Linked DNA regions of Homo sapiens. The protein of the gene in region 2 purifies or fractionates together with the protein of the main gene of each other region. This does not show direct contact. Each region holds a gene or a part of one and is shown on either strand. Other genes may lie near its edges. The genes, in order: DNAJA4 and HPSE.

The links.
Region 1: the proteins of HPSE (region 2) and DNAJA4 purify together in Homo sapiens (affinity purification with mass spectrometry; 2 studies listed by BioGRID and IntAct, with this or other methods). This does not show direct contact.

Annotation. Positions count from the first base shown.
Region 1 is NC_000015.10:78,265,170-78,280,478, reverse strand, and holds part of DNAJA4 (dnaJ homolog subfamily A member 4), read right to left. Parts: intron 14,999-15,309; coding exon of another isoform or gene 14,945-14,998; exon of another isoform or gene 14,842-14,944; intron 14,262-14,841; exon of another isoform or gene 14,237-14,261; coding exon of another isoform or gene 14,186-14,236; exon of another isoform or gene 10,544-14,185; intron 9,983-10,543; coding exon 9,802-9,982; intron 7,385-9,801; coding exon 7,280-7,384; intron 6,822-7,279; exon of another isoform or gene 6,283-6,821; coding exon 6,055-6,282; exon of another isoform or gene 5,379-6,054; intron 4,982-5,378; coding exon 4,751-4,981; intron 2,272-4,750; exon of another isoform or gene 1,679-2,271; intron 435-1,678; coding exon 334-434; intron 235-333; coding exon 19-234; 3' UTR 1-18.
Region 2 is NC_000004.12:83,326,572-83,341,736, forward strand, and holds the start of HPSE (heparanase isoform 1 preproprotein), read right to left. Parts: upstream 8,278-15,165; 5' UTR 8,212-8,277; coding exon 7,985-8,211; intron 1-7,984. UniProt on the Homo sapiens protein: Endoglycosidase that cleaves heparan sulfate proteoglycans (HSPGs) into heparan sulfate side chains and core proteoglycans. Participates in extracellular matrix (ECM) degradation and remodeling.

The DNA.
Region 1 (15,309 bases), on a different chromosome or scaffold from region 2:
ACGCTGCCCCGCACCACGTCATGCCGTCTGGCACTGCACTCCAGCCTGGGGCCCGTCTTCGTCCTCCTCGTAGGCCTCCCTGTGCTGACGCCAGTTCTGCTCATTGGGACAAAACTCCTTCAGCTCCACCTGATCCATGTCATCTGTAATCCTCACTTTCTGTCGAGGAGGGAGTAAAGCTTCCAGCTGAGGAAGCTTTTCCAGAGAAAGCCAGTGTTTTTCAGGAAAGATTACCTGTAAAGGGTGAGGTGGGAAAGAAAGGTGGCTGTTTTTTCCCCTTCCAATTAAGGCATTTAATAATATGTCCATGACAATGAAACATAGTGAACTTACTAAAAACTGTATGATCAGAATCCCTTTTTCCAGGGGTGCTTTGTAGATGGGCATTCCTTCATCGCGCACGCATCTCAGGTCCCCGTGCTTTATCACCTCACCTGCCAGAGAAAGGGTCAATTAGGAAGGAGGAAGGCAGAGGGGCCTGCAGAGGTCGTTCTCCCTCATGGGAGAGCCTGCGGCAGGCCCTAGTGCCCCGTGGCAGTGGGCAAAGGAAACGTGGCATCTGACTGGAAAGCTGGCCCCAATCCCAGGTATCCTTGTCAGGTACTGCCTGGGGAAGGGGCTCAGGCTGAGACTCTGGCCTGTGCTCTGGGCTCCAGCAGTGTGTCAAGAGGGCAGCATGGTGCAGCTGCCATCACAGGTAGGTTTAAAACAAGTGAACTAGAAGTCATGACACCCAAGTCTGCCTAAAATGGGGCCAACACCTGTCACCCTGCCTCTTTGTGGGGTGACAGGTATCCCTACCACGAGGGGGACAGGAGTGCTCCCCACAGACAGGAAGAAGCCTCAATAGAGTCCAACCAGTCCCCTGCCTGGCATAAAAACTGGCTCTTGGCCACCTGCAGGTGACACCCAGGTTCCTTGGTAGGGAGCTCACTAGGTGGCTTGGCCACTGGCAGACTCCTTCATGGTCACAATGCACTTCCATACATGCTGCTGAGCTGGAGTCACCCTCCCGGCTGGCACCCGCTGGGTCTTACAGCTACGTGACTTTGGAAGGCATCAGAGGAGTTCAGACCCCAAGAACTCTAAGGCGTTCTCCCAAGTCAGAAACTTCCCTCTAAGCATGGAAAAGGAAAGGGACAAAAGGGTTTCTGATAAAGCATGCTCTTCAGCTCAGCGATGAAAATGGACAAAGACAGAAAGAAATGTTCGGAAAAAATGGGGGAGACGGTGGAGGGGAATGGAAACACTAATTTCTTCAGCAGTCCACTTCCATACGGGACTATGTAGAAAGTGAGCTGTCTCTTCAAGAGGAAATCTTTAAAGAGGAGGTTTTAAAAATAAAGTAAGCCAATGACTATCCTTGAGATTCATTCGCAGGCAGGGCTGTGGTTCAGACATGGCCTTCAGAGCCTACTGACTGTGCAGGACAGCAACCCCTTAGCTAAACTGCTCCAGGCTGCTGGCTTTTTGTGTTCCTGTTTATTCTTTTTTTTTGAAATACAGTCATGGCCAGGCACGGTGGCTCACGCCTGTAATCCCAGCACTTTGGGAGGCCGAGGCGGGCGGATCACGAGGTCAGGAGTTCGAGACCAGGTTGATCAACATAGTGAAACCCCGTCTCTACTAAAAAAAAAAAAAAAAAAAAAAAATAGAAAAACTAGCCAGGAATGGTGGTGTGTGCCTGTAATCCCAGCTACTTGGGAGGCTGAGGCAGGAGAATGGCGTGAACCCGGGAAGCAGAGTGTACAGTGAGCCAAGATCACGCCATTGCACTCCAGCCTGGGCGACAGAGCGAGACTCCGTCTCAAAAAAAAAAGAAATACAGTCATGCACAGCATAGTGACCTTTCAGTCAACAACATTTATGAAGATGGTTGCAAAGATTACACCAAACTTTTACTGCACCTTTCCTATGTTCAGATACTCACATACTCAGCATCGTACTACAACTGCCCACAGTATTCAGTACAGCAACCTGCTGTGCAGGTTTTAGCCCAGGAGCAACAGGCTATGCCACACAGCCTAGGGTGTAGCAGGCTATGCTATCTAGGTCTGTGTGAGTACATTCTATGGTGTTCACACCACAACGACATCGCCAAACAATGCATCTCTCAGAACATATCCCCTTCGTTAAGTTACATATGACTGGTTTTTCTGTCTCCCCATTCCTATCAGGTGTCGCTTCTTGCTGCTCTCAAGCCCTACTCCCCATGCTTCTGCTTCTAGCTTGCTGGGAGCTGGGAAACTGACCAAGCATGGAAAACTACAGGTAAGAGAAGAAGACCACGAGTTAGGCTCTCCCGGCAGGTAAATACCTGCCTGCAGGCAGGGCCATCACACCCTTGTGTGGCTCCAAAATCACTTTTTTAATTAATCCAATCCTCAGCAATGCTCATAACAGGCTAAAAGGCTCTGGGGAAGAAGGCATTTCAACAGCAGAAAAGAGGAAGAAGAGGGAGAAGAGAAAATGGAGAAACAAGAAATAAGCCAACACAAAAGAGGGGTGAAGAAAAGAGAGGGTGCAAAAGAGAACAAAGTAAAAACAAAAACAAAACAAAAAGGACAAACAAATCCCCAAAGAACTCTCCAACGGCAGGTTTCCTGGATGCTCCACCCTTCCTTATAATAAAGAAGGAAATGGATTTCTTGGGATTTGCCACTTCCTTCCCTCTGGGGCTCTTTCTCCACCACCCTCACTCCATTTGGCTCCCGGCTCCCTAGGCTGGGGTCAGCTGAGACAGCAAGGAACGCTGGCTCTTGGTGGGGCCCAGGACCTCAAATAGTCCACCCCTGGACAGGACAGGCTTTCCCAAAGAAGTTACACACAGATGCTTCCCAGCCCCGGCTCAGGAGGGCTAGGATCTGGGCTGTGACCACGTAAGGGCATCTTGGACACAATGCCAGGGTGTTGAGCTCACAACCAGTGGTCTGGAGCTTCGTGTAAACTGTGATCCTCAAACTCCTCCTTGAGGGAGGAAATGGGTGCCTTGGGAGGTCTATGGAAGCCTAAGGGAAGGTGTTTTATTTTAAATTTTCATGCAAATTTTGCATTATACTGCAGTGCTTCCCCCAATCCTGGATTAAGTATATGTATAAAAACACACACAAGTCTGGGCAACATGGCGAAACCCCGTCTCTACAAAAAGTACAAACATTAGATGGGCGTGGTGGCATGTGGCTGTCCCAGCTACTCGGGAGGCTGAGGTGGAGGTTACAGCGAGCTGAGATCACGCCACTGCACTCCAGCCTGGGCGACAGAGCAAGACCCCTGTCTCAAAAAATAAATGAACAAATTTTAAAAATAAATAAAAACAGACACAGATCAAATGACAAACCAAATGGGGTAAAATGTTAACATCAGACAAATCATATATGGATGGGCCTCGGACTATTTTTATATTTACAACTTCTTGTAAGCTTGAAATTGTTTCCAAATAAGTTTATTTTAAAACTCCACAAACCGATCAAGGCTTGGATATATAATTCTGCTTCCTACTATCCCCAGGAAAGGAGGAACCTGAAAGAATCCAAGAGAGGAAAGAGAAAAAGAGCACAAGGCTGGGAAGAGAAAAGCAGACAAGGAGGGGAAGGGGGAGAGGGACACGGAGGGAACAGAAGTCCAGGCCTCAGTCACCCCACCAGACTTGAGTCTTATCTCCAGCTGCCACTGCCCTGGGGGCAGGCTTATTGGTGGTTACCTCCCTGCCTGCCCTGAACCTACCCCTTTTGCACCAAACCTCAAATGGCCATAGAAAAAGGTAATCCCAGCCCCACGGCCAGTGAGGGGACTACAGCAACACTGCAAATGGCTGGTGCTGGGGCCCAGGCTGCTTCGGTGGCGTAGCCGCCACCACACCCATCCAGACATTCTTTGCTATGCACAGCTGACCTTAGTGCTATTCAGAAGCAGCTTCAAGTCAAGGTCCCTGGCCTGGCCTCTCTCCCTTCTCAGCCCCTTCTAGGCAGGTGCTCTGGTGCCCACACAAACCCTCAACTACAGTGAACACACCAACCCTCCTGGGAGATGAGTGCCCTGGTGTCTACAGGGGGGTTGGGGGCTGAGCTCAGGCCTCAGGAACCCTTTCGGCCTAGAGGCATCTCCCTCTGGCTCCCATGGGTGTGTGCAGACCAGCAATTCCTGTGGAAACCTCCAAGGATAAACTGATAGGCAAAGTCTTTCTTACAGGAAAATTCTATTTTAAAATGTAACTCATGTAATGAACAACAGAGGCTACAGGAACATGTGGATGAATCAGCACAAATCACCACTTGATAGAAAAACACCACCTATTAAGCTGTTTTCTTATACAAAAATAAATTTTTAAAAACTTAAGTTTAATTGCCAGAATTCATCTAAAATTCAGAGCCCCAAGATTCTTATTTGAGACTTTCCCCCCAACTGAATATTTTTTCTAGGAGAATATACAAGAACTTTATAAATTATCCAGAGTTATTAGGGACAGTTTTAAATTTAGAGAAAATCACATCATACTAATTTGTGTAACAGAATTTGACCTTAAATGTGAAATCAGGGGAACTATTCCCAACACAAAGAAATAAATACTCAAGGCGACAGATGCCCTAAACACGTGGCTTGATCATTACCCATTTTATGCAAGGGACAAAGTATCACATGCACCCCATCAATATGTAAAATATTATGTAGCAATAAAAAAATCAGGCTAACTTGCCAGAATTATTATGCCAAACATACAGAACATCAATGGAAACACACTTTGAAACATTACCTGCTTTGGATGTAATAACAAGAATTCGATTGTCCAATGTTTTTATCGTCTTCTTGAAGCCACAAAGAGCTTCAGAAAGCTGAATTTTCATTTTCATGATCAAGTCATGGCCTCGTCTCTGAAAGACACTATGATCCTTCTGATCAAGCACAATTATGACATCACCAGGCTCCAGCTCAGGCTCCTGATCTCCTTCTCCATGAAATAGTATCTTTTGCCCATCTTTCATACCTATGAAACATCATCCCTTTCTGATTAGCCATTTCTCATACAAACCATGCTTCCTTAAAGCTTTTGAAGAAGGAACAGAGTCCTTCAGGGATTCTTTATTCATCAAGTCTCCCAACCTCATGCAGGCACAAGGCAGGGAGGGGTGGCTAGGATGGCCAATGACAGAAGAGGTCCCGCTTCCCTTGGCATAATGTGGGGCCAAGCCCAGCATGCACAGGGAGTGGGGGAATGCGGCTCTACATCCCAGGTTTACACAGCACTCCCTGCCCAGGGCCTGTGATGCCACACCACCAGCATAGGGTCACCGCCCACTTCCCGGGGCACAGGGTGCATGACTTGGGACTGATAGGGACAGGTCAGCCAGCCCTGTCCTTTTCTAATAAGTCAGCTTGCACACTCAAGGCACAGGGTTTAGGCATGTTTAAACAGTAAGTCCTTTAATAACACCTGTGTCGGTTTGGCTGTTGATTCTTTTACTTTTGGTCTCATCTCTGATCTAGGATATATTTACTGGATTGGAAAGCCACAGAATCATCGGAATACTTGGAGGACAGCTAAAATGGAAAAAGGCCTTAAAATGATGGCATCAGGCAAAATGAATAGCAGGAGAAGGTGCTGTATTTGGGGGAATCTGATGCAGCACATGGGGAAATGTGGAGAAAGGGAACATGCAGCCACAAACACTTACACAAGCCCTTATGGCCAATGAGCATCAGAAGCGACCAGGAAGACACTCCGAAAGATTCTAGAGGAATGGCTTGAGAATGTCAGGAGATGGCAACTAACCCAAACCAAGGCCAGGTAAGACTTTCAGAGCGTTAGAAAACCTCATAAAGAGGCTGTCTGTGATCTCAAGGAAGTAAACCTCAGCAAGAACACTTTGGCAGGTGACATGGAATGGAAATAAGGCCAGGAAGGGTGAAGAGAAGACTGGGAAACAAGAGGAATTCATGGCACACCCAATACATGTTGTGATACAGCTCACTTCCCTGACATCTAGTCTGTGTATCTCACGATTAGCACCCAGACAGCATTTCCAGCCCGTGTGGAGCACCAGCTCTGCGCAGCCTCACCTTTTTCAACATGTACCTCGATAATCTTCTTCTCACGGATCACCTTGGCCCCGCTGCAGCTCTCGCAGCGGTCCTTGGGGTTGATGCGCTCACCCTGGCCCTTGCACTCGATGCACACGGTCTGGATCTGCTGTACCATGCCCGGCCCGATCTGCTGGATGTGGATCTGCATCCCCCGCCCCTTGCACAGCGGGCACTTCTCCACCGATCCCTTCTTCCCACCAACACCTGCAGGGTCAGGGGAGGCAGGAATGAGGGCCATGCTCTTCCCTTACCAGTGTCCCTGCTGGGCGCCATGGCAGAAGGGTAGGGAACCCTCACATTGGACAATGGGCTTAGAATTCTATTTACAATAATAAAAAACAATGCAGAAGAGTCTGGAGGAGTCCAGCCAAGCAGACAACATCCAGATGTTAACATCTGACCTCAAACGTTTGTGATTTTGGCTGCACCAATCCAAATTTATTACTTTAGCTTCATCAAATGTGTTTTCTTCCACCCCAGGTGGAACTCGCATAGGCCCACAGATGAATGAGGAGGCTGGGGCTGTGGCGATCTAGACAACACAAGCTCTGTCAATAGTGGCAGCTACCCAGCTCAGCCAATTCTCTCTGTGGGACAATGTGAGGCTGGGGTCACCAGACATGGCTTTTCTTGAAAACTCAGGTTTTTTAAAAATTACAATAATTATATATACATTTAAGTCAGGGGTCAAGAAACCATGGCCAGACTGCTTGGTTTTGTAAATAAAGCTTTACTGGAACATAGGCATGTCCATTCATTTATGTACTATGACGGCAGAGTGAACTAGCTACAAAAGACTCCATGGCCTGGAAAGCCTAAAATCTGGCTCTTTACAGAAAAAGTCTGCCAACCCCTAGATGAGGTCAAGTGTCTGATTTTTAATTTTTAAAAATAATTGTCTGTATACATATGTAACAAACCTGCACGTTGTGCACATGCACCCTAAAACTTAGAGTATAATAAAAATAAAAAATACAAAAACATAAAAAGAAATAATTGTCAACATGTCAAATAGAGGTGCAGCCCAAAGAAAACATTCATTCAGGCAAAGAAGTGTGGCCCTCAGGCCACCTGTTTGTAATCTCTGCTTGACCCTTGCATTTGAAAAAAGATAACTTATTTTCCCTGAACTATAAAACAAGCATTGTTTCTGAATCTAAGGGATCAGAACTGTGCGGTTCAGTCAAAAATTAATTTTTACCTTCACATTTCTCACAAATTACATTTTTCTGGAGGGCCAATTTCTTCGTGACTCCATTATATAGATCTTCAAGAGTTACAGATAACTGGTGTACAACATTCTTGCCTTAGCAAGGGAGAAAAAAAATTAGTGGCGTTGAATGAAATATACCATTGTATTAAATACCACCCATATGACCCTTAGTTGTATGAAGTCTCCAGAGACTCAAGACTGTGGCTGGGTCATGCGCTCCCTTCCCTGCAGGAAGCAATGCTTCTATTACCCCAGCCCATCCTTCTGGCCCTCAGCCAATAACAAGAGCTAATACCCTCTCTAGCTATGAGCTAATTATTCAATCATTTATAGAGGCCAACAAAAAGACTTTCCACCTTTATTTTCTGAGAACAAATCTGAGGACAAGGAGAGTACTAATTGAGAAACCAAAGGCAGTATTAACCCACGAAATTGGTTAAGTTTCCCCATGAAAGGAGTCCTTTCTATACATAAATGTTTGGCAGCCAAAGTCTCTGGATCTTTCACTTCCTTGGGCATAAAGCACTTTACTTTCTGAGCCCTTCTGTAACCGGTGGCCAAATGGGAATTCTTTCCTCTGCCAAAATCTTGCTTCTGCAACTCAGGACAGTGGGTGTTCAGTCCACAGGGTGGGGGTGTGCTCCAGCACCTGCCAGCCTGTCAAGACTGACAGCATCAAGACCCTCCCTGCTGCCCGTGGAGCTCCTGCAGTCACTGAGATGAGCTGTCCTGGTTTACTGGCTGCCAACTTTGAGAGATGACTTAATTAAGGGCATGAAGTTTTTCATCTCAAGACAGTGAGGGAGCTGGACAAGAGAATACCCAAGGTTTTTTTTGTTTTGTTTTGTTTTTGAGACAGAGTCTTGCTCTGTCCCCAGGCTGGAGTGCAGTGGTGCGATCTTGGCTCACTGCAAGCTCCGCCTCCTGGGTTCACGCCATTCTCCTGCCTCAGCCTCCCGAGTAGCTGGGACTACAGGCGCCTGCCACCGCGCCCACCTAAGTTTTTGTATTTTTTAGTAGAGACGGGGTTTCACCATGTTAGCCAGGATGGTCTCGATCTCCTGACCTCGTGATCCACCCACCTCGGCCTCCCAAAGTACCCAAGGTTTTATCATGTCCACACCATCAATTATAGGAGCAGGCGATATGCTCAAAGGACAGAGGAAGGATTTTTCCCTAATAAACACTTTGTGATTTTCAGCACTCTATGTTCACAGAATTGACACCCAAGCTTTTTCAAGCTCAAAGTCAATTACAATGTGATAACAAGTGCAGCTTCATTTATCTAGGGGCCTCTCACTGACCAAAGCCACACTTCTTAAACCCCAAGGCAGAGCTCATTTCTTCTGACTTTATCCAGAATTGTAATACGCTTGGTTATCTTTCTGGTTTCAAGATCCAAAGCAGCCTGACAACAGTAAACTAAACAGGGGGAATGGGAACTAGTCTATTAGCAACTACTAACAACAGAGGTGACAGCCCGTAGCCTGGCAGAGGTGAGATGCAGAAAAATTAGGAAGAACAAATCCCGAGAAAGTCAAAACAGTGGCCTGGGGCCATTGAGCTAAGGGCTAAGAAGTTCCTCATTCACCTCCTGGGGATGAAGTTGCTACTACTCATAATGCATTCTGAAAAGAAAGGCAGGTCATTTATAAAGATTTCAAAACATAAAGAGATGAATTTTGTTGCCTAGAAAATCCCCTGAGCAGGCTGGGAAATGAGGCCATACTGAACATGGCAAGAGTACCCACCTAGAATTAGAGAGCCTGCAGCCCACGCCCAGGTCAGGGAACATGGAGGGCCACAAAGGGAGGGTGGGCAAGAGGAGAGAGGAACACTCTCGGTAAAGGATCACTGACAACCACAGGCGGCGTCATCTACATCCCTCAGCACACTCTGGTGCCTGACCCCAACAACAGAGGAAAAGAAGGCACGATGAACTTCACCTTCCTCTTTTCTATCCACCACTCCATTCGCTACTTCATATGGTATTGGAGGGTGTCAGATAATTACTAAATTTACCAAGAGTTTCCAGGTAGCCTGAGCACTAGACAAGTGATAAACTCTTTAAAGTTAATGATCTCAAAACATGGCAATTGTACCTGGTGGGGTTTTTTGTTTGTTTGTTTGTTTGTTTGAGACAGGGTCTCACCCTGCCGTGCAGGCTGGAGAGCTCACTGCAGCCTCGACTTCCTGGGCTCAAGTTTTCCTCCAGCCTCAGCATCTCAAGAAGTAGCGGAGACTACAGGCATGAGTCACCATGCCTGGCTAAGTTTTTTATTTTTATTTTTTTTGAGATGGGGAGTATCACTATGTTGCCCCGGTTGGTCTTGAAATCCTGGCCTAAAACAATTCTCCCACCTTGGCCTCCCAAAGTGCTGAAATTACAGACATGAACCACCGCGCCTGGCCCAATCATATCCTTTTAAAGCATGATCTATCCTGATTCCAACAACACGTATAATTGTGGAAACCATACAACTTATTTATGTTTCTTTAAAAGCATTTACCTCTTCTCTCTCTAGCCATCCGTCCACCACCACCAAAGAACATGTCAAAGATGTCCATGGGTGAAGAGAAGCTGGGGCTGCCTGAGCCTCCTTCTTTAATTGCCTGCTCTCCGCCTTGGTCATAAACATCCCTTTTCTTTGGATCTGAAAGCACTTCATATGCCTGGGATATGAGTTTAAACTTTAAAAGAGAGAGAGAGAGAGATTTTTAGAGAAGTTTCAGTTGTTTTGTTAAGCAAACCTGCCATATAAACATACAAAGTAATAGAGGTATTCTGCCCCCAAACCCTTGAACTAGCCAGTCTATACATCCTCTACCTGGAATCTGACTTGCCTGTCTACCTACTCCTTTGGTAAAGTGGGAAACACAGGGCAAACATATTAAGGGACTGGTGGTAGGGACACGATAAGAATAAGGGAGAGAAGCCAGTAGAGAGGGAAAGTTTCTCACTAATCCGGCTGCACCAGACAGGAAGTCGAGACCAGCTAGGATACCATGAGACAGTGCCAGGGGTGAACCTCTAACCAGATAGAGCCAGGACTCTGGGCATTACCACTGGCTCACCTCCTCATGGGAATCATTTCACTAGTTTACTAGAATGAAATTCAACTACAGGCATCTGTGAGCATCTAACCACGTGCCAGACATTGGATACAAACCTATACTCCTGATCCTCCCCCAAAAGCCCCGCCCCACCCATAGTCTTCCCCATATCACAGTTATTGGCAATGCCAATCTCACCTGTCAACAAATCCCACTGATGCTACCTTCACATTTGCATCTCCAGTACCCTAAGACAGACACAATATCCCATGTGTAGCATTCCTGCCAAAAAGTTACCACTGGAACCCAATTGTACGAAAAGAATCAGAAAACCCAAATTGAGAGATACTCTAAAATTAAAAGATAGAAAAAAACGAATACAATGTGTGATCCTGGATCAGATCCTGCACAGGGGAGAAAAAAAAAAATGGCTACAAAGGACATTATTGGAACAATGGGAGAAATGTGAATCTTTGTTCCCAATGTTAAACTTCTTGAATTTGATAACTTTACTATGGTTATGTACAAGGATGTCCTTGTGCCCAAGAGAAACACGCAGCACTTAGGGCTGAAAGGTTATGCTATAGGTAGCTTCCTCCCAAAATCTTTAGCCAACAGTAATAATAATAATAGATAAAACAAATGTGACAACTTATTTATAACTGGTAAAGCTAGGTGAAGAATACATAGGTGTTCATTGTATCACTCATGTTTTCTGCAGGTATATGGACATTTTTAAAATAAAATCAGAATGCGAAAACATGCAAGATCTGTTCCTTCTTACCACACCACATCCACTCTGGCTGAAGGCACCATCTCAGGCCTGGACCACTGCAGTGGCCTCCTCCGTGGTCTTCCATGTGCCCTCCTCACCCCAGCTTTCAGTGTGTTCTCCACTCGAGCCCACTAATTGGGTCGATCCTCTGCTCAAACCTCTACAAGGTGGCCCACGTCACTGGGAGTAAAAGCCAGTCCTAACTTTCATCTATAAGCCCAACTTGGCACCTGTACTTTCCTCTCCTCCTGTGTGTCCCCACCCCAATTCTATGCCAGTTTCAGCAGGCTCCCTGCTGTTCCTCAACTCTGCAGTCTGGGCCTCAGAGGCACCTCAGCCTGGTGCGGCCTCCCGACTCATCTCTTTCCAGCCTTAGCTCACAGACCACCTTCTCAGGGATGCCTCCTGGTGATCCAGCTTTAACACTGCAAACCCACCTCAGACCCTCCCAGCCCCCACAACTGCTGCATATTTCTCCATATCATGAACCACCTTCTAACAAGCTGCATCATCTACTGCTTATGCTGTAGCCCCCACTGCAACATAAGCTCCATGAAGATGGGGGGTTTTGTCCACTGCTGTCTAACTGAGCCTGGAACCATGCCTGGCATGTAGAAGGCACTTGGTAAATACCTGTTAGATGAATGGCTCGATTCTGGGAACTCAGAAATAAATAAATGAGGTAGGATCTTGGCCCTCCAGAGGCTACAGTTTAGTCGGAGAGACAAATATGGATATATAGATAAACAGATCCTATAATGCAGCTGGCTCCAAAAAATATTCAGGGAAAAAAAGTGCCATGAAATAAGGAATTTGAGAGAGAGAACAAGGGAATTTGAGGCATTAATTCCCTTGTTCTACAGATCCCTGATTGAAATCTAATAAGTAACCAATAATAATAGCTAATAAATAGCTAAAAAACTACAATTTAGAAAAGTCTTAAAAAGACATCAGCATCATATATAAGGCAGCTAGATCTTTTGATATGTTAATTCTCATACCATTTCTGCGAAGAAGTAAGTACCATTCACTACTATCCCTTTCCTCAGCAGAAAACATGAGGTAGAGTGTAAGGATTGGGTGCCTGGTACAGATCAGAAAGCAACTAGGCCAGGCTGCCCCTAGACAGTTTCTGCGTCTATCTGCAGGTCAGGACTAGGTAAATAACTTCATGGGAACGTCCACCGGAAACACTCACCAAATACCCTGGATACTCACATGTCATTTAGACTTAATAGAATGATCTAAGAATGGAAAAGGAGTACCCAGTTGCTTGGGACATTCAGTCAGAGGCCAGATCTCACATGGGATGGGGGTTCCAACTACCAGTAGGGAGTCCATCCTCTAGGGTCCCAGCACTCCAAAGTCTAATTCAGCTCCCGGCCCGGACCCCCTTCTCCCAGTGGGAGACGAGTGCTATGATGAGCTTGCCTTTCAGACCATGATCATTTGCCACAGAACCTTAACAGGATTACTATACAGCTGAGGGGAAAATGGCTTTGAAGACTACGTAACAACTTGGGAAAAGTACTTATAATAAAATATTAAGTGGAAACAAGAAAACAAAATGTCTATGTATCAGGATGGCCATGTATGATCATACTGGGGAAAGCTTGGAAAGAAGCACAGAGTGGTTAGGATAATGTGTACTTGGTAGGTTTCCCTCTGTGTTCTAAAATTTTCTGCATGGTTTGCTATGTTCTGATTTTTGAACTTGAAAGTCTATTATTCAAACTAAAAGTTACAATGAAATTGACCAAAAGACCAAACTCATCTCAACAGGGTAATAGCCAAGAATATACCCCACATCATTGCCCCTAAAAGGGACTATCTTGGTGACCCACTACCTACCACCCATGCATCTTGCAAAAAAAACAAAAAACAAAAAAAAAACACCCGCAGAGAAGTACAGACTCCATACAGAGTGCCCAAAAAACACAAGGTGCCCCAATGCTTAGCAACAGGGGACAACAGGGCAAAAAACAAAGACCAACATTTCAACGGCCTTCTCAGTTTTCCCAGCAAGGGGTAAAGAACTGGTGTAGTCTATTTTTGAAGAGACGTTAATAATACAGTGACGAACTTAGGAGGAAAAAAAAATTTAAAGGTTCTACCTGTGATAAAGTGGAAAAGAACTACACACACATACACACTCACATACACACTCACACACACACTCACACACTCACACACTCACATACACACTCACACACACACTCACATACACACTCACAAAAGGCCTGCACAGTGCACCCAGCACACAGTGGGGACCAGAAGAGGAGGTATTTGTTGAATGAATGAATGAATGAATGAATGAGCTCTCTCTGGGGAACTCTACAGCCGTTTCTATAAATTGTGTCCCCAGTCTCCTCATCCTCTTTGATTTCCGATCTAAATTGCCACTCTCCTCCCAATATCCCTTTCACTGCAATTTCCCTTCCAATTTGTGCCTTTATAGGGCCCTCTCCTCCTACACACAATTTTTTAAAGTGCATTTACTCAGCCAGCTAACAAACATTTTAGCACCTACCCTGCACAGCTAGATACTCACCCCATAAGTGGCCATGGGGGCACAGTCACTGCCCTGCTTACATTATGGCAGGTAATACAGTTATCAAACAAGTAATCACCATTAAAGGAATACAGTTAATCAAACAAGTAATCACCATTAAAGTAGGATGCACGTTGGGCCTGTGGTTCAGTCTATGAGGCAGAGGCAGCCTCCTGGAAGATGTTTTAGCTGAGAACTAAAGAGTTTTATCCCCTTCCATGAAGGTAGAGGAAGGAAAGTATTCCTGGCAATGGGCACATCACAGAACCCTTCCCTCCAAGCTGATGGGCCTGCCAGACCTCACTGCCAAGGGCCTCATTTATGTGACACTAACTCAGTGCCTGGCTATGAATAAATATTAGTTTAAAACAAACCAAACAACCTGCCCAGACAGGTATAGACAGGGTGAAACCTACACATATGTAGTACAGGTCAAGTCTAATTTTTTAAAAATAAAAGCTTCAGAACAAAAGCATATTCAGCTCTAACTGTATACACAGAGGCATGAACTTACTCTTGTGAGTGCTGAGATTTGACCTGAATCCAGGGTCAGGCTTTCCCACATGTCTTTAGCCAGCTTGCTGAAATGTGAAATTAGAAGCCTACAAGCTCTCCTTAAAGGAGACTGTCAGAAGCGGACCACAATGAATGTAGGGAGCAGGTGGATGAATCACCAGCACCATGTAAAACGCCAGTGCCTTTAAAAGCTACAGTAAGCCATCTAAATATAGATGAGAAAGAACGCAAGTGAGTAACAGACAAATGGTCTTACAGGAAAGCATTTTAAACTTGTGACAGCCACATTCAGCACATGTGGCTAAATATAAATATTCCATCACTGTTGCCATTCAGCCAACCGTCCTGAAGTAGCTTTCTCCAGCTTGGAACAACTAACACAGACAGGTATTTTGATTCCAGCGTCGTTTCCACAGGTCTTAAATGCTACATGGGTGATTGGTGTGGTTTCAAACGTGGCCCAAGTGACACTGCTATCAGCTACTATAACGGCCCCACCTCTCAAGACCCATGCGGAACAACCAAAGTTTTGTAAGAAAATGGCAAGAAGTGAAAGGAGGAACGGGAGGGTTAGCAGCCTTTCCTTGCAATGCCTCATCCTTCAATTCACCTATTCAGGTGGGTCATGAGCCTCTTTAGAGATAAAAAGCAAACTTTCTGTAAACAGGATGGAAAAGCTTTTAACTTCTGTCTCTAAAATGCAGAGCATTTTCAGTCTATGATTGGTACTTATGATCAACTGTGTGTCACTTGTCACCGAAAACCCAGAATATGAGTACAAGCTGATGTCAGGTTGCAGATGTCCGTGTCCCTGTTTAATAAAGAAAATGGGATTATTCACTATCTGACGCTTTTATCAGGTAGGCAGTAGGTGCACAGAACAAATCCAGCTAGTCATTCTCAAGAGAGGCACGGCGTTTGTCCAAGGTACCAGCTCAGATTAAAGACACTCATCCCTAGGGTTTATGCATCAACAGAGAATATGAGCCAGTCGTTCCCAGCAAGTAAACAACTGTTTGTGTGTGCCTCAGTTTCCCGATTCCCAGGCCGCCTCTCCCACAGGGAACCAACACACCCTATGAGAACTAGTCCGGCGCGCACGGCAGGGGCTACCCAAACACT
Region 2 (15,165 bases):
TGTGTGTCTGGAACTCAGGAGACACATACAGGCCGGGAATATAGACAGGCGAGTCCTCAGTAGAAATGTCAGGGACTGGCAACCCCTAGCTCACAGGTCACAAGGTATGGCCCTAAAACCAAGATGAGGAACTTCCTCAGAGAGAACCACTCCAGGCTGGCCCTGTTCCACTGCCTTCAGCCAGGCACTGATTCTGTTCCTTGGCATTTTGATTGGGTTTGATGATAGAGGAACCTCATTTAGATTCCTCTAGCTGTATTTGTAAGCAGTCGCGGCTGGGCAAGAGACTGGGAAGTGGGAGGAAACGAGCACCTGGAAAAGTTGCTGTGGCATCACATGACGGGCATCTGTGAGTGACCTGGGTCACAGCCTGGTCCTTAGAGGTACAAACTGTACCACCTTGGGTCACTCTCCATCACACTGCGCTGCCTTCATTTTCTTCATAGCATTCATCACTCTCTGAAATCAACTTCCTTTTTCATTTCCTTGGCTTACTCTCTATTGCAGCCCCCATCTCTGCTGCAAGCTCCCTGAGAGCAGGGACCTGACTGACTTATCAGAATCTACCCGATACCTAGATAAGTACTTGGCACACCGCTGGTGTTTAATAAATACTTAAGTGAATGAATGAGCAAGGCCCGCCTGATGTAAGGGTAAGTCGCTGCCAGACAAAGACTTTCCTGAACAAAATGAAAACCCAATACTGTTTGGGTTTACCACTTGGACACTGCCAAGTACAAGAAATCACATTTCAAAGTTTTGGTATTAAGGACCTTTTTGTTTGTCTCCTTTGCAATGAAATATTTTCTTGTTTTGAGAAAATAATATTGACGCCCTCTGACAAAAACTAGATTTAATATGGGTGCAAAACATGCCATAAAACTAAAACTGATCAAAGGTACAGTATTTCAACCATATACAAGAAAAATAAAGGAAAAATAATCCCACCACCACAGTGACATGGAAATAACAGATGAATGCATAAAAGAAGCTTCAGCTATTCTATTTCTAGAGCAGTTTGTTAAGGAAAAAAAGGGGGCCTGCAGGTGTTTTTATTTTACCTTTTGTACAAAAATAAGTTACTTCTCTCTGACACAAAAGCAGAGGTGTGCTGGAGTTGGCTGTACCACGTTGTTGGCCTGTGAAAGCCAAATGTTAAATTTGGAGAAAATTTGTGAGCCAGTTGTTAAACTGTTGGCAGTTTGGAATTGGCCATGGAGGGAGTATTTACACCACAGAAATCAGCAAAAACCATCAACCAGTCTCCCCTCTTCCCAGAGAGCCAGTTGTTAAACAGTTTCCAGCACAGTACTGCATGAGCAGTAATTTAAGTAATTTCTGGAAGTGGGTGAGACCACCCAGGGGAATATGTGAAGTGAAAAGAAGGCCTAGGTCAGAAGTCTGAAGAACACCAATGTTTAAGACAAACTAGAGAGAGAGAGATGGAGAGGAATTGTTAGAAAACACCCCCCAACAAGAAAGGCGACAGACCTAAAGGGGTAAGAAAGTGCTTCCATTGTCAACCTTGCCAAATGCCTCCAAGAGACTGTATTAGTTTGTTAGGGCTGCAGTCGCAGAGTACTGCAAACTAATTGGTTTGAACAACAGAAATGTATTGTCTTACAGTTTTGAAAAGCCGAAACGTTGAATTCAAGGTAGTGGCAGGGCCATACTCCCTCTCTAGGCGCAGGAAAGGATTTGTTCCAGGTCTTTCTCCTAAGTTCCCATAGCTTTTTGACTCCAACTCCATAACTCCTGTCATCACATGGTATTCTCCCTATGTGCGTGTCTGTCTCCAAATTTCTCCTTGTTATAAGGACATCAGTCATATTAGATAAGCAGCCCATCACATTCCAGTATGACCTCATCCTAACTAATAACGTCTGCAATGACCCTATTCCCAAATAAAGTCACATTCTGAGGTACTGGGGGTTAGGACTTCTAATATGGATTTCGGGGTAACCTCATTCAACCCATAACAAAGACCAAATAAGATAAAGTGTTTATTAGGTTTCCCAACAAAGGAAGGCCATTGATGATGTCGGAGAGATTGATTTTAGTGACACAATGATGGTGCCATCATGAGGGCAGAACAGGAAGAACAGGCTGCCGAGGGGAGGGAAGAAACGGGGTGGTTTCTGCAGAGGCATGTGCGAGGAGGTAATTGAGATGGGAAAGGCTTGGGGAAAGGCTTGGGGAAAGGCTTGAGGAAGAAGCCAGTAAAATGGGAGGAGTTGAAGATACAGGAGAGGGAAGAGGTGACTGATAGAGCGAAGTCCTTGGGGGTTGGGGAGGGGACGGGATTCAGGGCAGAAATGGAAGAAGCAGACTGAGATCAGAGAAAGGAGGAAAGCTGGACTTAGGCATGACATGTCTGCAGATTTGATGACAGGAGGAAAAGGAAAAGGAAGTAATTGCTCATTTTCTTTGGGAAGCAGAAGTATGGTCATGTGCTAAGAATGATAAGGTGAAGGTGGAGTCAGAGATTTTTAAAAAGTAGAGAATGTGAAAGGCAGAGAAATGGAGAGTTAAGGGTAACACTAAGGGCCAGGGAAGTCTGGAAGCTAAAAAATGTTTGGTGCAACATCAGTCTGTGTGGCTGGGAGACTGTCCACTCCCTCCTCCCGCAAGAGCTCAATAGCCCAGCTATACAGGGTGGCCACTGAGACTGGAAATGAAGCATTAAAATGGCTTATTAATATACATTAAAATTAATAAGTAATATTTTTCCATTTCCAGGTTTTTGGGCCACCCTGTAGATTCCAAAGAGAGAAAATATGGTTGGACTAAACCAGGTTTAGTATTTTAGCAGGAAGAACAATGGAACAGGGATTTGGGGTTATTATTACAAGAGTGGTTCACATGATAAATTAAGAAGCTCAAATCAGATATGGAAGAAGTAGAGAGAGGAAGAAGCTGTTCAGTGGAGGTATTTAAAAATTGTTATGATGGGTGCTATGGAGTAGAAGAGCTATGGTCTGGCTCTCAGAAAAAAAGGTGCTCTGCTTTTTAGTATTTGCCAATTTCCATGGTAAATATTCTCACCATGGCTGATTTCCAGATACCCACAGGATGTCACTGAATACAGAGTTGAGATGAAATGCATACATTTCATGAGCTGGATAAGCTGGTTCTGTTACAACTTGAGTGTAACATTATCTGTTATAAAAAAATGTGAGTGAAGAAACTGAGACAGTTTATCTAGGTGACTTGAAGTCATCTAGGATGATGGTGAGACTAGGAAGTGGAGAGGAAACTGTGAGATCAGTGCCAGTCTTCAGTTAATAAGGGGGAGTAAGTAAGAGGGGGACAGAGTGCCGTAAGCAGGAGCACTGGATGAGAGCCAGATGTGGAGATGAGGAAAACACACTGAGTCATGGCATCACCCGTAATGCACATCAGGCTAGTCTACACTGAGCGTGTAGGGAAGCTACCCGCCTTCTTTCACTCAATTTCAAAATAACCCACTGAAGCAAATGGCATTATTATCGTCATTTTACAAACAAGGAACCTGAACAAAAGGAGGTAATTTGCCCAAGGTAACAAGTCAAAAGGGACTTGAACTATAGCAGTATGGAGTTCAAACTAGTGGGCTGTCATCCAGAAGCCAGACTGGAGAACAGGAAAAGAACTGGACTATGGGAGAATATGCAGCCATTACTCAAAAGGGCTACAGGGAAGACAGTGTCATCAGAGAATAGCCAAGTTGTAGCTTGGACAAGGAGGTAGAGGAGATATTCTGTGAGGAGGACAGAGCAGGTAACCCTGCAAAGGGCTCCAGGGCACAGTGGACAGGGTTAGTGGGGAAGGCAATAATAAGAGCTCAATCAGAGGGACAGCACTTCCCAGGAGTTAGGAGACATGAGGTGTGTGATTGTCCCCAGCCCTTTGTTTCCCTTTGGCTGTGAATATTTCTGCCATCAATAGGCACATGGGGAGTCTGCACCTCTTTCCAACACTGGTTATCAAAACGTGTGTTTAACATTGATAAGTAATTTTCTAAATGTGAAAAGCAACTCTGTCTATGAAGATGCAAGAATCTAATATTGAAAGTTTTTATCAGTAAATATTTATTGAATTGGCAAAAATGGATGAACTTTGCTGAAGGAAAATAAGCAAATTGCAATGAAAAGCAAGCATGGTTGCATTATCACTGAGATTGCTGTTCGTACCACTTTTGCTCTGCAGTATTTAGGATTTCTACCACCGACTCAGCACTATACTTTTTTTTACCGTGCATTAGTGAACTATGCTTGTATACGTGTCTTAATTGAAATGCAGATCTGTACTGTCCACTACCATAGCACTAGCTACATGTGGCTACTGAACGCTTGAAATATAGTTAATCTGAGGCCGGGTGCAGTGGCTCACGCCTGTAATCCCAACACTTTGGGAGGCCGAGGTGGGCATATCACCTGAGCTCAGGAGTTTGAGATTAGCCTGGCCAACATGGTGAAACCCTGTCTCTACTAAAAATACACAATTAGCCAGGCGTGGTGGTGCATGCCTCTAGTCCCAGCTACTTGGGAGACTGAGGCAGGAGAATAACTTGAACCCGGGAGGCGGAGGTTGCAGTGAGCCGAGGTAACGCCATTGTACTCTAGCTTGGGTGACAAGAGCAAAATTGTCTCGGAAAAAAAAAAGAAAGAAAGAAATATAGTCTGAGAAGTGCTGTAAATAATACACGCCAGATTATAGAATAGACTTGGTTTGAGAAAAGGAATAATAAATACCTCATTAATATTTTTATATTGATTACATGCTGAGAAAACATTTTGGATCTATTGAACTAAATAAAATTATTAAAATTAATTTCACTTGTTTCTTTTTACCTTTTTAATATGGCTACTAGAAAATTTAAAATTACATATGACCTTGCATATGAGGCCCACATTATATTATATTTCCATTGGACAGTGTTGATTTAGGGCTGGGCTCTCTTTGGAGTTCTGCACACAGTTAGGCTTAGGAAGTATTTTGATTGGTTTCTTGATTAAGTCCCTCTGGGAAGACGACAAATTGAAAGATTTTTTCTTTCAAATTTTAGATTGCTCTATCATTGGTATTTAAGTTTTGTGTGGAGTTGGGCTGTACACAATGTATTTGCCATCATGGAGACTAGAACCACGCCAGTGACTAAGTTTGCTTAGGCCTCTTTGAAGTACCTTAGATGAAGGTTTGGGCCCTGATACTGTTACTCTCATGTGAATGCTTCTTTTCATTATATCAATCTCTCAATTCCTTTCCAAACAATCTTTTTCTACCATATCCTACTCTCTTTCCTTTAAAAAATATAATCTGCTTTCCCTTTTTATGGGCACTATTATCTCATGTGATCAGAGTCTAGTTTCAAACTGTGGCCAAGTTACTTAACCTCCCTGAGCCTCACTTTCTTCATTTTTAAAATGGGGGTGACAAAACTAGTCACTCACAGTGTTGTAGCCAAGACTAAATGGATTAATACCTAGAAGGTGCTTAGAACAGGGCCAGGCAAATGACAAGAACTGAGGAAGTGTCAGCTGTTTGTGTCCTCCTCTCTTTCCTTATTCCTTCAGCTTTCGTCTGCTCAGCTCTTGCCATCCCGCCCACACATCTTCACTTTTGAGGAACTGTAATAAATTAAACAACAGGCGTCTTACTCTCCTCTACTGTGGACCCCTACAAAGCTTAGTGTTGTCTTCTGAGATGGCTGGGCTGTTTGGGCCCTGTGCCCCTCCTGGGGAGATGGACCCTCACACTCTAATTTAGAAGCTAGGTCTTAGATGAGGAGAGGGGGTTCCTCCCTCTTTTAGGTCTTAGCAGATAACACTCTGGGTGTGCTTGTCGATGCGTCTGGGGAGCAGGTATGGCAGATGGCCTCTCCAAGCGAAGCGGGCTGGAACAGACAGCAGCCAGCCTTGGAGAGAAGCACGTATGGACAAGAATGAACTGTTTTGTAAACCAGAAAAAAAGTTTTATGTATCACATGTTATGCTCTCTTGGTATTTCATTATACTCCAGTCTTTAACAAAAAGGTGCAGAGGAGGGGAAAAAAGGGTGCTCTGGGAAATGAAGAGATGTATTTAAGAAGAATAAAGGTATCATCCTCACTAAATTGCAGATTGGAATTTCTACGTGTTAGGGGGGTGTTAGTCAATTGCGGGGAGCTTGACTGCTGGGTGATCAGGCCCAGATCCTGGAAGTCCCACTGTATGTTTTTTCTTTTGGACCTGTTACTCCAGGGGGGAACCCCCATCTGTCCTTTCTTGGGGAGAGGTTGGGGAATATGCTGGCTACAGCAATAGAAGAGGCCTCAGGTCCTCACATTTCAGTAAATGGACATCTACTTCATACCCATGTTCAGTAACCGCCCCCCCCCACCCCACACCCCAGCAAGCTAAGACTGGGGTCCTGTGATCTGGAGCCCTATGGTTCAGCATTTCTCTGGAACAATCTTCCTATCCCCCAACTAGTTGCTGCCTAGTATCAGCTTCCTATCCTTAAGGGGAAGGGCAGAAAGTAAGGATTCTTCCCCACCAGAAAATTGTAGTGCCAGAAGGAAAAGGAGAGGTTAACTATGATCCAAAGAAACAGAAAACCGGTGAATGGCTACCAAATGCTCACCATGTCCTAGAAAGAAACAATTCGTTTGAAACGTCAAACACTTACTATGGGTCAAACACTGAGAAGCTCTTACCATATCATCAAATCCTCGGGCAATAATCCTTGAGGCAAGCTTGAGAAATTCCATTCTACAGCTGAAGAAATCAAGGTTGGTGTGGCCAAGAGATATGGAAAAACCAAGTCACTCATCTTTGCCAGAGCTGAGAGTCAAGCCAGGATGGTCTGTCCATCTCTTAACCAGTACACTACCCATTAAATTAGCGCTGGCAACTATAGTGTGGGCTCAGGGAGGACAGCATCTAGGTATTTGACACAGAGGTGAGATAATGGTGATCTTTCCCTCTATCTGGGCTGGTCAAGATGTGGCCATCTCTGGAGGCTCCCAGGGCCTAAATAAGAGGCCTAGAAGACCTGGGATTGTCCCTGTAGCTCCCCATCTTGGAGTCAGCCTGCATTCATGGGGCAGGAGCCCTGAACCTGCATCAGGTTCCTTCTTTCTCAGGTAAGGAAAAAACTTAGAGCTGATAAGGCAGCACCACATTTTGCAGCCCCATTTTGGAGAGACATCTTTTTATTAGGACTTTGTAAGTCACTGCAGTAGTCTCCTAGGTCTCATTTATTGAATATTTAGATTTTTATTCCTGTTCTGTGACGCCCTTTTCATCTGCCTAAAAAAAAAAAAAGAAAAGAAAAAAGAAAAAGAAAAGAAAAGAAAGAGAAATCTTCCTAACACAGTCTTAAATACAGAAGGCTATGCACAATCTTACTTGTCCTACACTGCACAGCAAATCAAGCACTCACAGGCCTTCAGGTGCACCTGCCTGGTTTCCCTCCTCTTGGCTAGGGAAGTACTGGGGCAAGTGGGCAGTTTCTTTTTCAAATTTCCACTTATACCTGACCTTAGGTGGTGCCTATTCAACACTTACAGAATGAATGAAACAAAAAGGCTCATTTAGAGTGGGCGCTAAACAATGTGTACACATGGACTTAGTGGAATAGTAGACACTGGAGACTCCAAAAGGTGGGAGGGTGGGAGAGGGATGAGGGATGAGAAATTACCTATTAGATACAATGTACAACATTCGGGTGACAGTTACACTAAGAGCCCAGATGCCACCACAATGCAATATACCCATGGAACAGAACTGCACTTGTAACCCCTAAATCTATTTTTTAAATGATACCCCCCAAAAAGCAGTTTGGGGTCTGAGAGTAAGGGAGGGAGAGGGAGAATGAGAGGCGGGAAGTGGGGTGGGGAGAGACAGGCGGGGAGGTTCCGGTGTGAAGTTGTTTCCGCGCAAAAGAAGGAGAGCGGCTGGCGGGGCAGACATAGGTGTCAGGAGGACAGGAAAGGGGACAGGACCAGGAGGCTGGCGCTTACCCCAGGAGGATGAGGAACCGCGGGTCCGTGGCCAGGTTGGCGTCAATGGTGACGGACAGGAACGAGGGGCTCACCAGGTGCAGCGGCTCCTGGGTGAAGAAGTCCAGGTCCACGACGTCCTGTGCTTGCGCAGGTCGGGGCAGGGCGCCAGGGGAGAGGGGACCCAGCGGCCCCAGGAGCAGCAGCATCAGCGGCGGCGGCAGCGCAGGCTTCGAGCGCAGCAGCATCTTGGGCTCACCTGGCTGCTCCCCCCGCCAGCTGCCGCGCAGCGGAGAGTCGAGAGCTCTAGCACTTCCTCCCGCCGAGCCCCAGCGCCCTTTTCTCCTTTCCTCCGCCCCGTTACGCCTCCTCACCCCTCCCACTGCGCCCTCCATCCCTCCCACTCCTCTTCTGCATCCCTCCCACTGCTCCCAATCCAACCCCGCCCCGCCTGCCCGGCTCTCTCCTACTTCCTTGCTCGCTTTCCCCTCGGTGGCGGTCACGTTCACTTACGAAATCACCCACACCCACTTGAAGGGTGCGGAGATGGCCGGGATCCAAGCGCCCGGGAGGCCTGGGGAGGAGCGCCCGGGGAGGAGCGCCCGGGGAGCAGCGCTGGGCATCCCGGACCAGGCTTCCTGACGCACGTGTTCTGCGCGCTCTCGTGGGAACCCAGCGTTTCCGACTCCCAGATCCCATTCTGATGGCGCCGGGTATCCCTCTGACCCTCGAGTAAAACCTCCAATGGAGTATTCATCCCTTCCTCTCCCATCTAGCTTATAAACACTTGCTTGTCACTTGAGCCAGCCAAAATCTGATTGTCCTCTGGCCAGGCAGTTTCTCAGGTATTTTACTTTTGCTTGAAAAAATCTGGCCTCAGCATACGCTAAACTGCAGCTGGAAAGAGATCAACCACCCAAAATTCTTTATCAACTTCTCATTAAGACAATATTTAGCAATCTTAAAGGGTTAGTTGCTCCAATGTCTGGAACTCAGGACCTGAAGCCCCCATACAAAGTGTAGAGTACGGACTGCCCCTGAATTTGGAGCCTTTGCCAAATTTCTCCTCTGCGCATTTATCTTTCGCTGTTGGTCAGACTTTTCTTCAGCTTTTCCTTGATGCTTACACTGATGTATAATCATAGCAAGCATCGCACGCTTAGTGCCTACTGTATGCCTGATACAGGTGCTTTACTTGTGTTCTCTTCCCTTCTCACAACCCTGCCAAGTGCATACTGTCCTTGTTTTACACATGCGGACCCAAGCTCTGAGACAGTAACTGGGTGAAGTGTCAGAATCGGGATGTGAAGTGTCAGAATCGGGATGTGAATGCAGTTACAAAACCTCGAGCAGATGGCAGTGTGTTTCAGCTGAAATGTAACTTCCCTCAAGGAAGCTTTCTCTCAATCTCCAGGCAGCTCTCCATGACACACTCTCATAGCATCCTCAATTTGTTAGACACTCTCGTAGCATCCTCAATTTGTTAGACACTCTCGTAGCATCCTCAATTTGTTAGTATTGTGATGTTGCTCAACATTGGCTTCATCTACTAGATTATATGCTCCACCAAAACAGAGATTAAGTTTGTCTCACACGCTATGCTAGCCATAGCTCAGGCATGTGATCATGTTGGTGCTTAGTAAGAGTCTAATAAATATTGGTTGAGTAAGCAAATAACACCAAAACCCTTAGATTTTTCCACTTGAGATTGTACCACCAATAAGGCAACAAATAAAAATAGATTATTTTGAAATGCATATCTAATTTGCATAAATCAGGCCAGGCATGGTATGTGATGCCAGTGATGCCATCATGCCTGTGATGCCAGCATTTTGGGAGGCCAAGGTGGGAGGATTGCTTGAGCCGAGGAATTCAAGAACAGCCTGGGCAACATGATGAAACCCCATCTCTACAAAAAATACAAAAAATTAGCCAGGCGTGGTGGCCCGTGCCTGTGGTTCCAGCTACTGGGGAGGCTGAGGTGGGAGGTTTATTTGAGCCTGGGAGGTGGAGGTTGCAGTGACCCTTAATCACACCACTGCACTCCAGCCTGGGTGACAAAGTGAGACCCTCTCTTAAAATAATAATAATAATTATCATTATTTGCATAGATCTACCTATTCTTAAGCAACTTAAAAGCTAAGCTCATAGTGAGTTTTGCAACTAGAATCAGGTTCATATCCTACAATTACTGTATACATATGAAAAAAAATTCACACATAAACACCACACTACCAGAAGAGTGTAATAATATGGTAGCAGACGTGGAGTTGGAAAAACAGAAGTTTCTTTTCCACATTTGTCATGACATTAATCTTACACCCCACCCCATGCCCCTGACTCCTGTTGTGAGTCAACAGTCATACCAATTTCTTTCTTTTTTTTTTTTTTTGAGACGGAGTCTCGCTCTGTCGCCCAGGCTGGAGTGCAGTGGCACCATCTCGGCTCACTGCAAGCTCTGCCTCCTGGATTCACGCCATTCTCCTGCCTCAGCCTCCCGAGTAGCTGGGACTACAGGGGCCTGCCATCACCCCCGGCTAATTGTTTTGTATTTTTAGTAGAGATGGGATTTCACCATGTCTGTCAGGATGGTCTCAATCTCCTGACCTCGTGATCTGCCCGTCTCAGCCTCACAAAATGCTAGGATTGCAGGCATGAGCCACTGTGCCATGCCCAGTCATACCAATTTCTTTAACATGTTTGGGTGATTTGAAAAGTGGACCATTGCAAGTTTTCTAAATAGTGCATCCTTGTGGTCTACATGTGAGTTACTAATATGGAAACGGGGGGCCGGGTGTGATGGCTCACACCTGTAATCCCAGCACTTTGGGAGGCCAAGGCGGGTGGATCACTAGAGCCCAAGAGTTCAAGACCAGCCTGGGCAACATGGTGTAGCCAGGAGTGGTGGCGCAGACCTATAATCCAAGCTACTCAGGAGGCTGATGCATAAGAATTGCATGGGAGGCAGAGATTGCAGTGAGCCAAGATCATGCCGCTGCACAATGGGAGACAGAGCAAGACCCTGTCAAAAAAAAAAGAAAAAAAAGAAAAAGAAAAGAAACTGGGAAAACAAAAACGAGGGGGCAGAGAAGCAATTTGCACACATGATGATCTGTTGGCTGAGATCTTGCTCCTGCTTCTAATTTGGTTTGATTTACAATGTCTGATAAGGATGTATGATATGGATACATAGGAAGGAGGAACATATAGGAATATTAATAGGAACTATCATTTCAGAGATATTTTATAATAAGACACCTTAATTTTTATAGCAAGTTACAGCTACATACATCCTAGCTAGAGCCCTTTTTCATACATCTTAGCCCTGCAGCTTGATGGGATGTACAATCTTGGGCCAGATCGTCAATTTCCAAGAGCCTCAATTTCTTCATCTATATAGTAGGGGTAATAATACATATTTCATAAGATTTTTTTTTTTTGAAACAGGGTCTCACTCTGTCACCCAGGTTGGAATACAGTGATGTGATCTTGGCTCACTGAAACCTCCACCTCCACACTCAAGCAATCCTCCCACCTCAGCCTCCCAAGTAGCTGGGACCACAGGTGTGCCCCACCATGCCCTGTTAATTTTTTGCATTTTTGGTAGAGATGGGGTTCCTCCATGTTGCCCAGGCTGGTCTCAAATTGCTGAGCTCAGAGATCCACCCACTTATGCTTCCCAAAGTGCTGGGATTATAGGCATGAGCCACCATGCCTGGCCCATAGTCTTTTTTTAAAGAATTAATTGACAATAATGTAACACAGCTAGCTCCATCTACAATGTGAGGTATGTGTTTAACAGATGAGAGATTATTTTTTAAAAAATTATTACCCCCACTTAATCTTTGCAATAACCTTGTAAAGTAGATTTACAGCTTTCTGATTCCAAGCCCAGAGTTTTTCCACTACCTCACGCAGATTTAGGGACTCACAAATTATGTGATGAAAATGATTTAGAAATAAAAAACTTTAAATGAACTAGAAAGTTTATGTGAACGCTTTATTAATTATGGGGCTGGGTGCAGTGGCTCACACCTGTAATCCCAGTGCTTTGGGAGGCTGAGGAGGGAGAATCGCTTGGGCCCAGGAGTTTGAAACCAGCCAGGGCAACATAGCAAGATCCCATCTCTAAAAAAAAAAAAAATGTTTTTTAATTAGCTGGATGTGGTGGCATGCACTTGTAGTACCAGCTACTTCACAGGCTAAGGTGGGAAGCTTGCTTGAGCCCAGGAGATAGAGACTGCAGTGAGCCATGATCATGCCACTGCACTCCAGCCTGGACAACAATGTGAGACTCTGTCTCAAAAAATATTAATAAATAAAAAATAAATGCATAAAAATACAAAAAATAATTATCATGTGATCTCATTTCCATGTGGTCTGTGGATTGATTTTCAGTACTGGCATTGGGTTTTTAGGGATTCACACAAGGTTTACCTGGTCAACAATTACAAACACTTGTAAAACAACAGACTGATTTCAGGATATTTTCAGAAAATGATAATCTTATCACTTGTCTGTTTAGAAAATTAAGACTTTTCTAATGTAGAAATCTCTGAATGTGGGCAAACTTTTAGGCATTTGTAGTTATCTCCGGGCAAATAAATAGTTACAAATGTGTTGTTTTGAGTTATTGGGTTATGACTTTCTAAAGTTAAGTTTTGCTTTTAATTATTTGCCAATCAAACTGTATTTCAAAGCAAGGAGAAATTAAGAGAAAATTTTTGCTGAATGGTGAAAGGAAGGAAGTTAACATCTATTGCATGCATGGTGTTCTACAATGTGCTTTCACATATTCGTTTATTCATCTATTCATTCAAGTAGTTATTGGGCACCTACTATGTACCAAGCACTGAGCTAGGCAACTGTAAGCAGCAAGCAGGGATTGTTCCTGTGCTCTGAAGTCTTACTGGGGAAGTAGAAGGTATTTTAAAAATCACAGGATGGTGGTGGCTCACGCCTGTAATCTCACTGCTGAGGCAAGTGGATCACTTGACTCCAAGAGTTCAAGACCAGCGTTAGCAACATAGTGAAACCCCGTATCTTCCCAAAATACAAAAAATTAGCTGGCATGGTGGCATGTGCCTGTGGTCCCAGCTACTCAGGAGGCTAAGTCAGGAGTATTGCTTGAGCCCGAGAGGCAGAGTTTGCAGTGACCCAAGATTGCGCCATTGCACTCCAGCCTAGGCAACAGAGACAGACTCTGTTTCAAAATAATAATAATAATAATAATAATAATAATAATAATAATAATAATGAATTTAAAAATATCACGCAAAAGTGAAATTGCAAGTGTGGTAGGTGCTCCAAAGGTGATCATGGTGCTTTACGTGTGTATGAGGTAGAATTTCGATTTGGGGGGAGGGGCCATTGAGGATGTGACACTTAAGATCTGAAAGATGAGTAGACAACTAGGTAGAGGGAAATCATTCAAGGCTAGGGGAATGGCCTGTGGAAAGGTCCTGTGGTGTGTGAGAGCATGGATAGTGAGGGGACTGAGAGAAGGCTGGGGTGTCTGGATTAGAGAGAGCAAGGGGACAGCTGAGGATGTAGGAACAAACATTGCTGAGCCTTGCAATATTTTTAGAGCAATGAGAAGCCATTGAAAGGGCTTCAAGCCTGGGGTGGGTGCTGTGATAGGATCAGATTAATGTTTAATTAAATTAAATTAAATTATTTATTTATTTGAGACAGGCTCTTACTTTGTCACCCAGGCTGGAATACAGTGTCATGATCTCAGCTCACTGCAACCTCCACCTCTCGAGAGGAAATGATCCTCCTGCCACAGCCTCCAGAGTAGCTGCAACCACAGGCATATGCCACCATACCTGGCTAATTTTTGTGTTTTTTGTAGAGACATGGTCTTGCCATGTTGCCCAGGCTGGTCTTGAACTCCTGGACTCAAGCAATCCACCCACCTTGGCTTCCCAAAGTACTAGGATTACAGGTGTGAGCCATCATACTCTGCCTCAGATTCATATTTTAAAAGGGTAAACTATAAATGTTCTGTTTCCTCTGCTATACAGATGCCTGTTCATAGAACATGGATGTGCATTTCTCTATAGATATAGAGTCTCTATTTTTTAAATTATGCTTTTATGTATATATATATATATATATATACCTACATACACATGTATACACATAAGCTTATACACACACAATTAATATTTATTTCTCTCTGTGCCTGTGGGCAACTGGGTACTGGGAATCAGCAAGTGAACTAGAGGATGACAGAGAAAGCAGGAAGCATCCCTAGAGCAAGAACTAATAAACTCAGTGACCACACACTCTAACCAGATAGATTATTATCCTGTAGGCTGAGGGGTTATTCAAAAGTCCCTAAAGAGCTGACTGCCCGAGTTTGGTCACCTGTCTCTGGCATATGAAGGCCCTGCAAGATGTTAATTATACTCATTCCAAAAAAAGCATAATCAAGTGAATTGAGGGGGACATTGTTTATGTTGCTCTCAGGCTCTGTAAATGGTATATACAGTATAAACACAGGGCATATGTGTGTATGGAAAACTCTCTCTCTAACCATGCTTTTTCCTCTACTCTCAAACCACAACAATCATCAACATAAGACCACTTCTGTGACCACAGGTGTGTGTGGTTTTTCCCCCACACACCAAGCAGCAGACACCAGCTGGGTGTTCTTTAATTCAGTTCTGACACTATCTACCCGGAGATAGTGTCAGATTCCACAAGTTGAGAGCTCAGTCCCCAAGACTGCCTCCCCCTTCCACACTAGTCACAGGTCTGGGCCTCTGAAACTTCTTACCAACATGCTTCAAGTTGGGGCTTCCATGGCCCCCTTTTTGGATTTGACTAATTTGCTGAAGTGGCTCACAGGACTCAGGAAAACACTTACTTATATTTATTGGTTTATTCAACCCTTCCTCTCCCATCTAGCTTATAAACACTTGCTTGTCACTTGAGCCAGCCAAAATCTGATTGTCCTCTGGCCAGGCATTTTCTCAGGTATTTTACTTTTGCTTGAAAATATCTGGCCTCAGCATACGCTAAACTGCAGCTAGAAAGAGATCAACCACCAAAATTCTTTATCAACTTCTCATGAAGACAATATTTAGCAATCTTAAAGTGTTATTGGTTTATTATAAAGGATATTACAAAGGATACAGGTGAAGAGACGTGAAGGGGTCAGAGCTTCCATGCCCTCCCTGAGTGCCACCTCCAGG